2 linked regions of the Homo sapiens genome follow. The protein of the gene in region 2 purifies or fractionates together with the protein of the main gene of each other region. This does not show direct contact. Each region holds a gene or a part of one and is shown on either strand. Other genes may lie near its edges.

Region 1 (4,296 bases), about 110 Mb from region 2:
CCCAGCCTCAAGAGTGATTCAGGGAGGCAGACAAGGGGCCTGTTCTAGCCCAGGAGAGACCAAGGCCAGACTCTCTTATGTCTTATAAGATCTGCTATTCAAACTCAACTGACATATCTCCATCTTCCTTCAACCCCCCCAATTCTTGGTGGATGTGTTTGTAGATACCAGTGACAGGTATAGATATTCTCAAAACCACCTTCACCTTTTCTGATGTATCTTCATCTTTTAATCTTCTGTATATACACATACATATACACGTATATATATATTTTGTTTATTTACTTCCTCTCCACCTGCTGGGCTGCAAGCTCTGCCTAAAACAGGGCCTGGCACATGGTAGACACTCAACAAATATCTGCTAAAGGAAAGGAAATGCCCATTTCTCCCAGTTCTTCTCTGACCTCAATGACATTCCCTCCTTTTGCCAATACCTCCCCAACTTGGGAAGGAGGAAGAGGGGTGGGACGGAGAGAACTCCATATCTGGGCCTTTACAACATGGACCACAGGGACACAAAACACAACTATATTACATACTTTGAATCCTGCGTGACCTGAGAAAACGCTCTGCTGAGAACAATTCAGGGGGAAGACAAAGGGTGGCAGACGTGGTCACTGACAAGAAGGAAGGTGTTAGAGGCCTTCCAGAGGGTCTCTGGAGGAGCTGGTGGGGCCAAGAGGACTACATCTGCTCAGGAGGGAGACCCTTCCAGAACTGGAGTGGGAGTGGGGCCACTAAGGGACAAAAGAGAGAAAATGAAGGGCGTGTTAGCCTTTGCAAATTTGCTCCAGTTCTGGATAAGGGTGAATCATGTCTGCTAAGATACATAGGAAATGAAAGAAAGGTCAGGGCAAAAACGTGCATCAACACAAGGACAAAGAGAGAAGGAACCTGGGTTGAGCATCATGTTGGGCATTCCTGAGAATGCTGCAATTTTCATGGAACGCTGTGCTGTGACAGGAGGTGATAGAAGGTGGGTGGGTGGGTGGGTGGGTGGAGGAATGTTGTCCTGCCTTGCCAGGGGTCATTATTGCTCTTGGAGGTAAGGGAGACTGAAGTTAGAGATGATTGGGTCAGAAAAAGGGCAATTGTGCTGGTTTGTAAGCTCTGGAGAGCAATGGCCCCATCTTCCTCACATGACTTCCCCACTGAGCTAGCACAGTACCTAGCAGAGACATTGTTGATAAACAAAGACCATGTCTGACTCATGAGGATGAAAGGCAAGTTGTCTGCAGATAAATCTTCTTTTTTTTTTTTTTGGTAGAGATGAAGTCTCCCCATGTTGCCAAGGCTGGTCTCGAATTCTTGGGCTCAAGCAGTCCTCCTGCCCAAGCCTCCCAAAGTACTAGGATTACAGGCATGAGCCTCCATGCCTGGCCCAGATAAATCTTAACACAGCAGTCTGTGGCTTCTCTCTTTCCAGCTCTGCTGAGGCCTGTCAAGGAAGCAGGGATCCTCCTAGAATCCCAGGCTTTGGGGAGTGTAGCTGGGCCAAGGGTCAGTGAGGCAAAACAGTGAGGAGTCCAGACCAATACAGTTCTAATTGGATCCAAGCAGCCAGACAATATCAATTAAAATGCACTTAGTCATGAGACTTACCCCCCTTCTAAGGGGCAGAAATGCTGAACGCTGTAGGGCACGGACAGACTTCTATTTATCTTTGTATCCTCAGTGTCTGGCTTGCTGCCCGGCACATGGTAGGCACTCAATAAATGGCTGGTGAATGAACTACCCAATTAAGGGAAAACATGAAAGAAATGGGAGGCATCCAATGAGAAGAAAGGCACTGGGCAGAGGTTTTAGATTCCCATCCCAGACTTTTCCTGTCACATAGACCTTGGCTTATCTACACACACACAGGCACACACACACACCTACCTATTCCACACACACACACACACATCCCTACCTATTTCCTCTTTTCCACGTGATACTGTAAAGTACACCACCCATCTTTCAAGGCCTGTTTCTTTGCCTTCTCTCTAAGCTCTGCAGTTTCCCTCAGCTTTGAAACCATATGACAAACCTGTTTGTAGGAAGCACAAATAGTGCCTTGGGTAGACTTCCTCCCTGCTCTGTGTTTCTTCAGTAACTGGTGTGTGTCCCAATCTCTGCATTTTTCATCTTGTGTATACTATACTGTCCCTGTTAGTTCCCTTCAGTGTGATTTCTTATTTGTCCCCGTGTCTCCACCTGACTCCAGTTCTGCAGAAGGCAATCAGCAAGTTTACTGACTGTCCTGAAGGAGGCTCAGGTCTGTTTACCATCCCCAAGTCTTAGGAAAGAAAAAGAAAAAAGTCCCGCCCTGGCCACTACATCCCACGAGAAACAAGACCTTAATAACAGTGTAAAAAGAAACTGCTGCCCAAAGAATGAAATCAGCGGGTGGAGGGTGGTCCTTCTAGGTTCTAGGAGCTCAGATGCCAAACAGATGGGATTGGTCCGAGATAGGAATGGAAAAGAAGAGAGAGAGGCTGCCTGCTAACAGTCACGACCTCCGACTCCGGCGGAGCACAGGGCACCGAGTGGTACACAGAGAGCATTTCCCTCCCAATGTGCGCCTCTATTTCCGGACAGACGGCCTCACTGCCAAGAGAGACTGGCCTCTCAGACTCTCCTAGGCGGGTAGCGTAGCTCACAGCGGGCACTGGGACACCCAGTGATTCGGCCGTGTCAGGCCCCACGGCAGAAGGAAAGGAATTCTGGGCCCGACGACTTCAATCCATCCCCACGGCGCCCCAGCTCTGTGACTCACCCGAACTCCACCTCCACTGACAAGGGCGCAGCCATGTTGAGGAAGCCGAGCTCGCAGGAAACTCCCCTCAACTTCCGGCGCGCCCGCAAATTTCCGGGCGTCTCCGGGTGCCGCGGACGGAAGAGGCGGTGCCCAGGGATCCAGCTTCGTCAGCTGTTGGAGGAAGTCATCGAGGGGAGGGGAGGGGAGGGGAGGGCAGCGGAGGGAAAGGGGTGGCAGAGGGACTATCACCGGCGCTGTTGGGGCTGTGAATCGGTCTCCTTCCGTCTTTCACCGACTGGGCTCAGAGACCCAGGGTGGGAAGCGCCTTGTACGGGACCACAAGCAGGCGGAGGAGAGCCCCCAGGTTTTTTGCGACGTGACCGTGAGCCACGTAGCTGCTTATCTTGCATGAGTTAGAATCTCTTCAGTCTACACACCGCTTGGGCCAGCCCATCTACTCGTCTGGTTGGAATTATAAATGACTCCCAGATCTTTATTTCCGACCCAGAATCTCTCCTGAGCGGGCGACTCGCTATCCAGCCGCCCCCTTTGCTGTCGATTTGGAAGTCACTCGTTCAACAGCTGTTCATTGCGCCTCCCTGTGCCAGGCATTTTGATCGGTGCTAGTGGTAAAGGGGATGGGCAAGGTTCCTGCCTTTAGGGCACTCACAGTCTAGCGGGGAGACTAACTGTAATCAAATAAGCATACTAAGACATGTACAACCTCAAACTTAAATAAAGGAACTGAAGTTATAGGAACTTCAAAAAGAAAACTGAGTAGACTGGACTTGCTGGGCTCTAAAACCTGAGTAAACTAGGTGGCTGTGAGGGGAGAGAAACCTCTAGGAGCATTCCAGTGAGGAGGACAAAAGGCCCAGAGGCTCTGGGTGAGAACATGCTGGAACATGGAGAGGAAGGTGGAAGTTAGGGAGCCTGACTTTCATCCATCTAGAGAGGGAGCTGCAAAGGTGCTCAGGGGCCAACCCCTGCCTTGTAAGCAGGTAAACATTTCAGTCTCTAGGAGCAGTGGGAGACTACTGAAGGGTTTTGGGAGACAGTGACATTTTAGAATTGTGTTTTAAAATATAATTTCTGGCTGCAATATGGAGAATGATTTGAGGGGAATAAGGAAAGAGACACGGAGACCACTGGAGCCTGTTGCAAAAGCTCAGGGCAGGCCGGGCGCGGCGGCTCAGGGCAGGCCGGGCGCGGCGGCTCACGCCTGTCATCCCAGCAATTTGGGAGGCCGAGGCAGGCGGATCACGAGGTCAAGAGATCAAGACCATCCTGGCCAACATGGCAAAACCCTGTCTTTACTAAAAAAATACAAAAATTAGCTGGATGTGGTGGCGTGCGCCTGTAGTCCCAGCTACTCGGGAGGCTGAGGCAGAAGAATCGCTGGAACCCGGGAGGTGGAGGTTGCAGTGAGCTGACATCGAGCCACTGCACTCCAGCCTGGTGACAGAGCAAGACTCTGTCTCAAAAAAAAAAAAAAGCCCAGGGCAGAAATGGAATGAAGTTGGCCAGGCACAGTGGCTTATGCCTGTAATCCTAGC
Region 2 (3,500 bases):
AGTTCACCTCAGGATCAATAAGACTAAATTAAAAACAAATAATATCACATATGCTTAACTTCATGGAGATATGCTATGGCCACTTGAAGGTAAAAACAAACTATACAGAGAAAACTATAAATATACCATCTTATATTTGTAAAGCACTTCACAAAGGAAGTCCACATATGTGATCCCCCTTCAACTCATAACAACTCAGCGAGACAGGAAGAGCAGACGGTAGTCTCCTGTGTCACTGATATGGAAACAGGGAACAAAGGAGCTAAGCCTCTGGCCAGAGGATGTAGAGTTAGAAGACATAGGGGCCAAGAGAGCAAGAACCCTGCTTCCCTGTATTTTGCTCTTCCTTTAGGGCATTCTAGCTGTGAAAAGCAATCTGAATGCCCTGAAGTAAACCAGCTGAAACATACCACTCTGACATAACTGCTAAGCATTCACTTTTCATTTTAAAAATCTACCCCTGGTTGCTGAAAATAAAAATGTATTCAAAACTATTTATAAATACACACAGCTATACTTCCACCAATACAACAGTGAACCCTAACTAGGAAAGAGGATTAATGTTACAATAAAAAATTTTCAAGGCTAATTTAAGCTGAATATTTTATTGTTCCAAATTTATTGTATCCAAATTGTCAAAGTATCCTAAAATTCCAGCAAAAAACCCTAGTTCAAGACTACAAATGACTTTGCACAAATGTTTTCATTTCAAAATAGTATTATACTGTCACTGAAAAAGAAACGATGTAACAGGTTTCGGTCCTAACTTAAATCGCTCTTTTTAACTTTGTCATTAAACCATTTTTTAAAGTCAAATACAGACCTGAACTGAAAAACCTTAGAGAGGCATTTCTTAAGATTTAAGAGTGCATGTTTTGTAAACAAGAAAATCTACTGTGCTTTGTTATTTGCAAGCAGGATTATAAGAGAAGTGTGCTTATGTATTAATATACACTCAAAAGTGCTCTTCAACAGCTGCCGATTGAAAGATGACTTATCATTGTTCCATCTTTCCTGTCCCCAGGAAGTTTGAGAAACAATGTCTATGATCACAGCATTCTTCTTAACCAGAACAGCTTTAAGAAGCACTAAGGTATTCAATCTATATGAGTTCTTTTTGTAACATCTGCACTACTTAGAAAGAATGATCAGGCCAGGCGCGGTGACTCAAGCCTGTAATCCCAGAACTTTGGGAGGCCGAGGGGAGCAGATCACCTGAGGTTGGGAGTTTGAGACCAGCCTGGCCAACATGGTGACAACCCGTCTCTGCTAAAAATACAAAAATTAGCCAAGCATGGTGGCATGCACTTGTAATCCCAGCTACTCGGGAGGCTGAGGCAGGAGAATCACTTGAGGCCAGGAGGCAGAGGTTGCAGTGAGGCAGAGGTTGAGATCATGCCACTGCACTCCAGCCTGGGCAACAGAGTAAGACTCCATCTCAAAAAAAAAAAAAAAAAAAAAAGAATGATCAGAGCCACAAATACAGAAAACCTTGAGGCAACGTGAGAATTGACCTCCAAACCTAAAAATGTCTTAGGCAGTTAAGTAGTGCAATTTCTGAAAACATCAAAAATTTTCCTTGCTTCCAATTTACACTGTACATTTCCCCTGCTCTCTGAACATTTCAGCAGTGCTCTATCAGGAAATTCAATGATAAAAATTCCTGAATCTCTTTAGGTCCCTTGTCTACTCTCCTTTCTGATCCTCCAATCCTTTGTACTTCCCCCTCACTGCTACCAACTTCTGAAAAGTTGACTAAAACTATGGAAGCAAGAGGCCCAGAAAGAGAAATCACCCCAACGTTAGAATTAAGGTTAAATAGCACCTTATTTGGTCACCAATAAGTGAGTCTTTCCTAGTTCTTTCTTACTACTGCATTCGTTTGAAAAAAAAAGCATCAATATCCACTTCCATCATGAACATTTGTATTTTAGTGAATAAGAAACTCTACAATAAGAAGCGCTTAAAAACTGAGCTTTTCTGTATGATCAGCAATTATCTGAATACATGTTTCACGTAGCTTTCTAAAAATCTATTACTATTGTGAGAGCAAACAGATCACTGAGCTTAAGAAAATTACTTGGGAATTAATCTTTATTCCCAAGTAATTCCCAAATAATTATTTACGTTTAAATTCAAGGCACAGTTTTGAATATCAACTATATGTCATACACTACTCTATCTTGTTGACAGATTTAGAAATTTTTAAAATTTTTATGTAGTAACAAAATGCTTTTATCGAAAATGCTCTTACTTTTTCCTATTTCAGGAAATTATCTTCTTTTTAAACAGTCTATGCAAAAAAACAAATTTCCACCAGAAGTTTGCTGAATAACTGTGCTATCAAAATAAGTTATCAAAAATAAAGAAAACTCTAAATAGACTAACATTAGAAAAAGCTAAACTCCACTTGCATCAATTTTAAATAAAAGCAATTATAAATTAAGAGGCTCATTATGTAAATTTGCATATATGCATGTATGTGTATACAAACATAAATACTACATATATGTATACAGATACATTTGTCAAATTCTACACTATACCAGTTTAAATATTTATACAGAGAGCCAATGCTAAGAAAACAGAATTAAATACAATATCTTGTTCACAGATTTTTGTGACAGCTTTAAAATGAGATACAATACAGAATTCACGCAGCATTTGTTTTCGAAGATTATATTTCTCAACTGAACATTTTCTTTAAATATTACAAGAGAGCCCCCTATTGACCAAAACTGTTAGCAGTTCTGCAGAATCAGCTAATTATCACTCACATACTTCCAACAAGTACATAATGGTAGTAGCTATATCCAATACATAATGCTTAAAAAGCTTTAAGGGGTAAGGAAGAGGTTATCAGGGTGTCTGAAATGTTATTAATTAAACAAATGAAAAGGGGATATAAACATTCGGATGCATATGGTTTATTACAATTAGAAATAGCTACCATTTAAGTACATCCTACTTGTCAGATATTGTAGTAAATGTTTTATATACATTGCCTCATTTAATACAACCACCTTAATCCTTTTGTATATCAGGCTGCAGTTAATTCTTACTTTTTTGGCTCAAATCTCTCCCTGTTAGAAAAGATAGGATTTCTGTGGAAAAATGACTTTGGGAGTTGACAGAACCATATAATCTAAATAAAGATATCCTTATTAAGATATTGTAAAACTATATAACTTTAACATAACTGTTGTTTAAAGCTGCCAAGTTGTAAGATTTACATTTTATTACCCACCCCTCTTTTCTTTGCTAGAAGTGAATTATTCTTACCATGGACAGTGATGATCCATTCTCCTCACACAGTGGCCGCAGCGGCTACAGTGATGGGAACGCTTTGGTCTCATCAAATTACACTTGTTACATAATTCCCAGAACTCCCTTTCTAAAGAAAAGAAATTAAAATCCATTTAATGAAGGCAAGTGGGTAATGCTGAAATTTACCAACAGTTGTTTAGAAGATTTTATAGGAAGCCTTCAACATAAAACTC

Evidence for each region.
Region 1: the proteins of ZDHHC21 (region 2) and URM1 purify together in Homo sapiens (affinity purification with mass spectrometry; one large-scale study listed by BioGRID and IntAct). This does not show direct contact.

Annotation. Positions count from the first base shown.
Region 1 is NC_000009.12:128,369,878-128,374,173, reverse strand, and holds the start of URM1 (ubiquitin-related modifier 1), read right to left. Parts: upstream 2,801-4,296; 5' UTR 2,794-2,800; coding exon 2,759-2,793; intron 1-2,758. UniProt on the Homo sapiens protein: Acts as a sulfur carrier required for 2-thiolation of mcm(5)S(2)U at tRNA wobble positions of cytosolic tRNA(Lys), tRNA(Glu) and tRNA(Gln). Serves as sulfur donor in tRNA 2-thiolation reaction by being thiocarboxylated (-COSH) at its C-terminus by MOCS3.
Region 2 is NC_000009.12:14,658,933-14,662,432, forward strand, and holds part of ZDHHC21 (palmitoyltransferase ZDHHC21), read right to left. Parts: intron 3,395-3,500; coding exon 3,283-3,394; intron 1-3,282. UniProt on the Homo sapiens protein: Palmitoyltransferase that catalyzes the addition of palmitate onto various protein substrates. Palmitoylates sex steroid hormone receptors, including ESR1, PGR and AR, thereby regulating their targeting to the plasma membrane.